2 linked regions of the Homo sapiens genome follow. The protein of the gene in region 1 interacts with the protein of each later gene in a pairwise test. Each region holds a gene or a part of one and is shown in the gene's direction. Other genes may lie near its edges.

Region 1 (4,006 bases):
AAATACGTGACATGGCTCTTACCAGTTTAAATGGTGTGGTTATTTTCTTTTTCTTATATGAATCTTTTGCTCAAAACATACCTACTCATTGTTTCCTGAACACATCATTTACTTTGCCACCTCTGTGATTTTGCTCACACAATTTCTCCAGTTCGTAACACCCTTAACACTCTTCTCTGATAATCAAAGACCTTGACCTTTAAGGCCAAGCCAAGTACCACCTTCAGGGTGAATATCTCCCCAAGGACCCAAGATTTCAGTGACTTAGTCTCTCACCTTCTATTATTTTTATGGTCTCTATCTACTTAGCACACATCCCATATACATTTTCTATTTAAGGATATATTCTTTCTTCCCAACTAGATTTTAAATCTCATGAAAACAGCAGTCCTATTTTATTTCCACATTTATATTCAATTCCTAATCTAATATATATATAATTATATAAAATTATATATATATTTTATATACGATATAAATTATATATTATATATAATTATATGTATAATTTTATATATAATTATATATATATATATATATATATATATATATATATATATATATCCTATCCTCTTGCCCGGGCTGGAGTGCAGTGGCATGATCATAGCTCACTGCAGCTTCGAACTCCTGGGCTCAAGCAGTCCTCCCACTTCAGCCTCTTGAGTAGCTGGGACTACAGGCATGCACCACCACTCCTGGCTAATTTTTGTATTTTTTGTGGAGACAGTCTCGCTCTGTGGCCCAGGCTGGTCTTGAATTCCTGGGCTCAAGCAATCCTCCCACCTTGGCTTCCCCAAGTGCTGGGATTACAGGAGTGAGCCACCATACCCAGCCATAACAAGTATTTAGTAGTTTCTAATGATAGTTAGATTTTTTGCTTTGATATCATCATCATAAAAGATCTGGGGCACTCTTCAAACCTAATTTAGGTTGTAATTGAATAATGAAGCAGTTAAAATATGACAGTAATATTTCCATCAAACTTAATCCTATACGTTACGTTAATGTATCTGTATATACATTTACCATAATGTACACAGTCATTAATTATACATGGTTGTTGCTGTATGTTAATGTACTATGGTTCAGTTTTCAAAGGCAAATGTTATAGTGCATTCCAGGACACCTGTGTCCACGAGATAAGTTCTTTGAAACTATATTTGGATCTGCAGGCTATTAAAAGCTTCTTGTACTGAGTGACCTTTCAGGCAGAATGTAGACTGAGCGCTCCTGCTACTGCTGCCTGTTGCTGAGAGGAAGACCGCAGAAAATTCTGGATTCAAACATTTATTGCTTTTTTTGTTTTGCTTTGTTTTTGTTTTCTTTCCTTTTGCCTTCAGAAGATGAACAATGAAACCACAACCCTGATATCCTTGAAGGAGGCAATGAAAAGGTTGCTGAGGGCTATAGGGAGGGAGCAAGCATGGGTCTGCTATTCTGGGAAGATGGGTAAGAGAAGAATGAAGAATAGAAATAAAGAACTGCAGACATGCTCATTAGAATTCTGTCTCTGTGGCCGGTGCGGTGGCTCACACCTGTAATCCCAGCACACTGGGAGGCCGAGGTGGGCGGATCACAGGGTCAAGAGATTGAGACCAGCCTGGCGAACATGGTGAAACCCTGCCTCTACTAAAAATACAAAAATTACCCAGGCATGGTGGCGGGCGCCTGTAGTCCCAGCTACTTGGGAGGCTGAGGCAGGAGAATCACTTGAACCCGGGAGGTGGAGGTTGCAGTGAGCCGAGATCGTGCCACTGCACTCCAGCCTGGCAACAGAGCAAGACTCCGTCCAAAAAAAGAATTCCGTCTCTATTACAGTGGTTTAAGTCTTCCAGGCCCAAACCTATGTAAATTAACAATAAAGAAAAGTCTGCTCCCAGGTGCTGTAACTCCATTGAATGTATGCATATGCTAAATCCTAGATTTACAAAAATAAGTAAAATGTGGTTTCTGCCCTCAAGGAGCTCACAGCCTGTAGGAAAGAGAAAAGTTTGAAAAACATTTACAATTTAATGTGACTGACCTTACAATGGTGATGTTCCTAAAGGTCTATGCGAACATGAAGGGAGGATCAACCAATTTTGCCTTTGACACTAGAAAAAGGAACTCTTCATATAGGGTCATTTAAGCTGGATCTTAAAGTGCAAGTAGGAGCTTATGAGGGAGAAAAATATGGGAAGGCATTCTAGGCTGAGGAAACAGTGCATATAAGCCATATGTAAGCTTGGAACCACATAATGTATTCAAGCAGCAACTAGATGTCTCGTGTAATTGGTAACTAGGATGGGTGAGGGGACTGGTGGAAGACAGGAGCAAAGGGTGAAGGCCCTTGACTTTCCTGCTGAGGAGATCCAGTTTGCCTCTGAGTATATCACTGGGCAAGCCAGGATGACATAAACCATTTGTAATCAGTTGAGTCACAGAATCGGAATTGTGTTTTAGAAGAATGTGTCTGGAGGATGGATGGGAAATGGAAAACGGGGGTCCAGTTAGGCTACGGTAATCTTGGGTCCTAGTGAAAGATGATGAGAAACTCATTTGATGGAGATGGAGAGGCAGGAATGGGTTAGAGAGACATAAATCAGGGGAAGAAAAAAGTTGAGAATTATTCTGAGATTTCTAGTTCAAGCAATTGATTGGATGGTGAGGTCATTAACGAAACTAGGGAACTGTACTAAAACAAAACAAAACAGCCTGCGCTGAGATTTGCATGTTGGTTGAGATTTATCTGGAACGGCCTCGGACTGTCCTTTGGTGAGAGGATTCCAAAGAACTGCTGCAACTGTAAATTTTTATACTGATTGACAAGCTAGACTTCTTCCCTAAGTTTCAAACTACAGATGACCTATAAGCAATATAGTCTTAAAGGTCTAAAAGTTAACACAAAATAGTATGCCAAATGGCTTTTTTTTTTTTTTTTTTTTTGAGACAGAGTCTCACTCTGTCACCAGGCTGGAGTGCAGTGGCGCGATTTCAGCTCACTGCAACCTCCGCCTCCCAGGTTCAAGTGATTCTCCTGCCTCAGCCTCCTGAGTAACTGGGACTACAGGTGTGCATCACCACACCCGGCTAATTTTTGTATTTTTAGTAAAGAAGGGGTTTTACCATGTTGGCCAGGATGGTCTCGATCTCTTGACCTCATGATCCACCTGCCTTGGCCTCCCAAATGGCTGGGATTACAGGCGTGAGCCACTGCACCCGGCCAACTTTCTTTTTTTTTTTTTGACACAGGGTCTTGCTGTGTTGCTCAAGCTGAGTGCAGTGGCATGATCACAGCTCACTGCAGCTTTGAACTCCTGGGCTGAAGCAATTCTCATACCTCAGCTTCCCCAGTAGCTGGGACCACAAGTGTGCACACCACCACACTAGGCTAATTTTTTATTTTTTGTAGAGATGAGGTCTCACTATGTTGCCCAAGCTGGTCTCAAACTCCTGGACTCAAGTGATCCACCCACCTTGGCCTCCCAAACTGCTGTGATTACAGTTGTGAGCCACTGCACCTAGCTCAAATCACATGGTTTTGACTTGTAGACAGAAATTACAGGCATATCAGGTCACACAGGCTTCTATTCCTACAAAATGAACATTTTATACTGAGTCTTATCTATGTGTAAAGCAGTGACAACATTTCTTCATAGTAATTTCTGAAGATGGGGGAGGTATTAGTAGGTTAAGCTTAGGAGAGTTGAGTTTGACATCTCCATCTTTGTGGAGATGCACAAAACATATTGAAAATACATCTCTAGGCCGGGTGCGGTGGCTCACGCCTGTAATCCCAGAACTTTGGGAGGCCGAGGTGGGCGGATCGCCTGAGGTCAGGAGTTCGAGACCAGCCTGGCCAACATGGTGAAACCCCATCTCTACTAAAAATACAAAAATTAGCCGGATGTGGTGGCGCCTGTAATCCCAGCTACTCGGGAGACTGAGGCAGGAGAATCACTTGAACCTGGGAGACAGAGGTTGCAGTGAGCCAGGATCGTGCCACTGTACTCCAGCCTGGCGACAG
Region 2 (3,500 bases), on another chromosome or scaffold:
AAAAAATAAATTAGCCCCGTGTGGTGGTGGGCGCCTGTAGTCCCAGCTACTCGGGAGGCTGAGGCAGGAGAATGGTGTGAACCCGGGAGGCGGAGCTTGCAGTGAGCCGAGATCGCGCCACTGCACTCCAGCCTGGGCGACAGAGCAAGACTCTGTCTCAAAAAAAAAAAAAAAAAGAAACCAACAAAGTGCAGTAAAACAAAAGAAGGCTGGGTGCGGTGGCTTACGCCTGTTATCCCAGCACTTGGTGAGGTCGAGGCAGGTGGATCACTTGAGCCCAGGAGTTTGAGACCAGCCTGGATAACATGACAAAACCCCATCTCTACAAAAAATTCAAAAATTAGCCAGGTATGGTGGCACACGCCTGTAGTCCCAGCTATTTGGAAGACTGAGACAGGATGATCACCTGAGCCTTGGAGAGGTCAAGGCTGCAAGTGAGTGAACATTGCACCACTGCAAGATACTCTAGATTTCTTCAGATTCTTTAAAGCGTCTGCATGGGACCCAGCCCACTATAGAAATCCATGGCACTTTTTCTTCTGAACTCTTCTGAATTTAAAACCTGTTAAGAAAAATCTCAGTATGAAACAGTACATTTTGATTACCTAAAAAACATTTCCTTATCCTTGTTAATGTAGCCATGAAGTTTATAACAATATTTTCTACAGGCAATATTTTCTCCTGGAAGTACAGGAGACTTCCAGGATTCAGGGCTGGAGCACATGCATGCATACACACACAAACTTCTCAAGCAGTGTAGATTTGGGCACTTAAATTTAGTTTAAAAAATCTCAAATATCAACACATTAAGTGACAAAGAAAAGGTGCCTGATTACTTGATTTTTAAAACAAAAACATGATCTAGGTCCCTTATGGACTTTCTTTTTACAGAATTTAAGAAGTATTGATGTGTTGACAAGTGAATTATTTCTATCAAAATTTGAAATTTCTAATAGTATACACTAATGTTTAACTATAACAGGTTCTTCTTGCAAAACGGAAACTGGATGGAAAATTTTATGCTGTCAAAGTGTTACAGAAAAAAATAGTTCTCAACAGAAAAGAGGTAAAATAAAATAGTTGTTTCTCTCAAGCCCATTTTCTCAATTAAGAGAGCTGTTTTCTAGTGTATAATACAATTGATCTTTTGCCTTTTTTCCAGCAAAAACATATTATGGCTGAACGTAATGTGCTCTTGAAAAATGTGAAACATCCGTTTTTGGTTGGATTGCATTATTCCTTCCAAACAACTGAAAAGCTTTATTTTGTTCTGGATTTTGTTAATGGAGGGGAGGTGAGTTTTATAATGAGTTTTCTAATGTTAATAGTTTAGAAAAATAGCATAAAGTCAAAGTTTTTCTTGTAAGTTTTAGAAGGACAGTATAAAATCAGTAGCTTTTTATAGCAATAATATTCAAGGTACTGGCTGAGTACAGGATGTGGAGAATTGTAACACAGAGCTTTTAAGCATATGGTATAGTTGAGAAGGTTCATAAAAGAACCTTGATATGAAGCTGCTGGCTTCATGGACAGGTTTGTCACTAAACTGTATAGCAAGAATAACATATTGAAATATTAGAATAAAATGTGATTTGTAATTTAGGCAATTATCTCAACAGTTGCATACAAATATTACTCCAGCTTCTCAGTTTCCAAGATGTGCAAATTATTAATCAGATGAGATAATCCTCTAATAAGGGGCTCTGTGGTGGTAGCTTGGCTCAGTGACTCGCACCTTTAATCTCAGCTACTCAGGAGGCTGAGGCAGAAGGATCACTTGAGTCCAGGAGTTTGAGGCTACAGTAAGCTATGATTGCACTGCAGCCTGGGTAACAGAACGAGACCCCATCTCTTTAAAAAAAAAAAAAAGGCTTTATGATAAAGTCTGTTTTGGAAATGTTTCATGTTATATCCATTTCTTGGTGATTCACAATATGCCTCAGCATGTTAAAGACTTCGAGAAATTCTGCCTTAAACAAAGTCAGGATATCTTTTTTTTTTTTTTTTTTTTTTTGAGACAGCGTCTCACTCTGTCACCCAGGCTGGAGTGCAGTGGTCACAGCTCGCTACAGCCTCAACCTCCTCAAATTGGATATCTTAAGAGAATTTTTTAAAACCGTGCAGTCCCCTTTTTTGTTTCAACCAATCTCTTAAGTATTACACAAAACTCTGATTCAGATGGATATTGAAATACACTTTGGGAAATGCTGCTATTACAATAATTACAATAATAACTAACTTCCATTGAGTATTACTTAGTATCCATCACTCTGGCTCTTTGTACATATAATTTTACCTTCACAACAATCTATAGTAAGACTGACTGAGGCACAGAGAAGCTAGGTAGCTTGTAGAAGTAATGTGGTTAGTATCAGAGGCAGGGATTGAACTGAGGCAGCCTGATTCCAGGATCTAGGCAGCTGACCTCTCAACCCTCACACCTTTCTAATTTGTTTGGTCTTTGAACTGTGAATGTCTAAAAAATTTTTTTAACTAATAGGTATTGTCATATCTTTACAAAGGGATCTTTCATTCCCCAATCTCTGAGCAGAAAATGACTATTTCAGCATTTAACTGTAGAAGAAAGGAACTGTAAGGAAAATTAGTTAATATTCTGCAAAACCGAAAGATGGTCAGACACACCTAGATCATTTTGGGGGAAGATTGTAAAAAGAATGATTATTCACCTTTCTACATCTGTCACAAAAGTCCCTTAAGGCCAGGTGTGGTGGCTCAACACCTATGATCCCAGCAATTTGGGAGGCCGATGTGGGTGGATCACTGGAGCCCAGGAGTTCAAGACTAGCCTGGGCAACATGGCGAAACCCCATCTCTACAAAAAAAATAACAAAAATTAGCTGGGCATGGTGACATGCCTCCGTAGTCCCAGCTACTCAGGAGGCTGAGGTGGGAGGATTGTTTGAGCCCAGGAGGTTGCGGCTGCAATGAGCCATGATCACACAACTGTACTCCAGCCTGGGTGACAGAACAAGACCCTGTGTCAAAAAAAAAAATTCCCTTAAGACTCTTCAGTGTAGAGGCAAGATTATCCATCTCTCAGGCATCCTGATTCATTGATGCAGGTGACCCCACATTGTTTTCACCTTGAAGGTTGTCGTTTAATTTTGTGTGTGCCCAAGTGCTGACAGATAAAGAGAATTTATTGAGGCTTGGCACTTTGCAATTATTTTACATGCATTATGTCAGTAAATCACAACTCTTTCAGAAAACACTATTATGCCCATTTAATTTGCCATGGCATTTATATTAAATGCCATGAAATTTTCTTTCTTATTTATTTATTGAGACGGAGTCTCTCTCTGTCACCAGGCTGGAGTGCAGTGGTGCGATCTCAGCTCACTGCAACCTCCAACTCCCTGGTTCAAGCGATTCTCCTGCCTCAACCTCCCGAGTAGCTGGGATTACAGGCACGTGCCATGACGCCCAGCTAATTTTTGTATTTTTAGTAGAGACGGGGTTTCGCCATGTTGGCCAGGGTG

The links. Proteins that work in one complex are often made in the same cells at the same time.
Region 2: the proteins of SMCO1 (region 1) and SGK3 interact in a two-hybrid assay, tested with the Homo sapiens proteins (one large-scale study listed by BioGRID).

Annotation. Positions count from the first base shown.
Region 1 is NC_000003.12:196,512,547-196,516,552, reverse strand, and holds the start of SMCO1 (single-pass membrane and coiled-coil domain-containing protein 1), read left to right. Parts: upstream 1-1,206; 5' UTR 1,207-1,343; coding exon 1,344-1,393; exon of another isoform or gene 1,394-1,423; coding exon of another isoform or gene 1,424-1,449; intron 1,450-4,006.
Region 2 is NC_000008.11:66,834,781-66,838,280, forward strand, and holds part of SGK3 (serine/threonine-protein kinase Sgk3), read left to right. Parts: intron 1-982; coding exon 983-1,066; intron 1,067-1,162; coding exon 1,163-1,294; intron 1,295-3,500. Other genes in the region: C8orf44-SGK3 (serine/threonine-protein kinase Sgk3), read left to right, coding at 983-1,066, 1,163-1,294.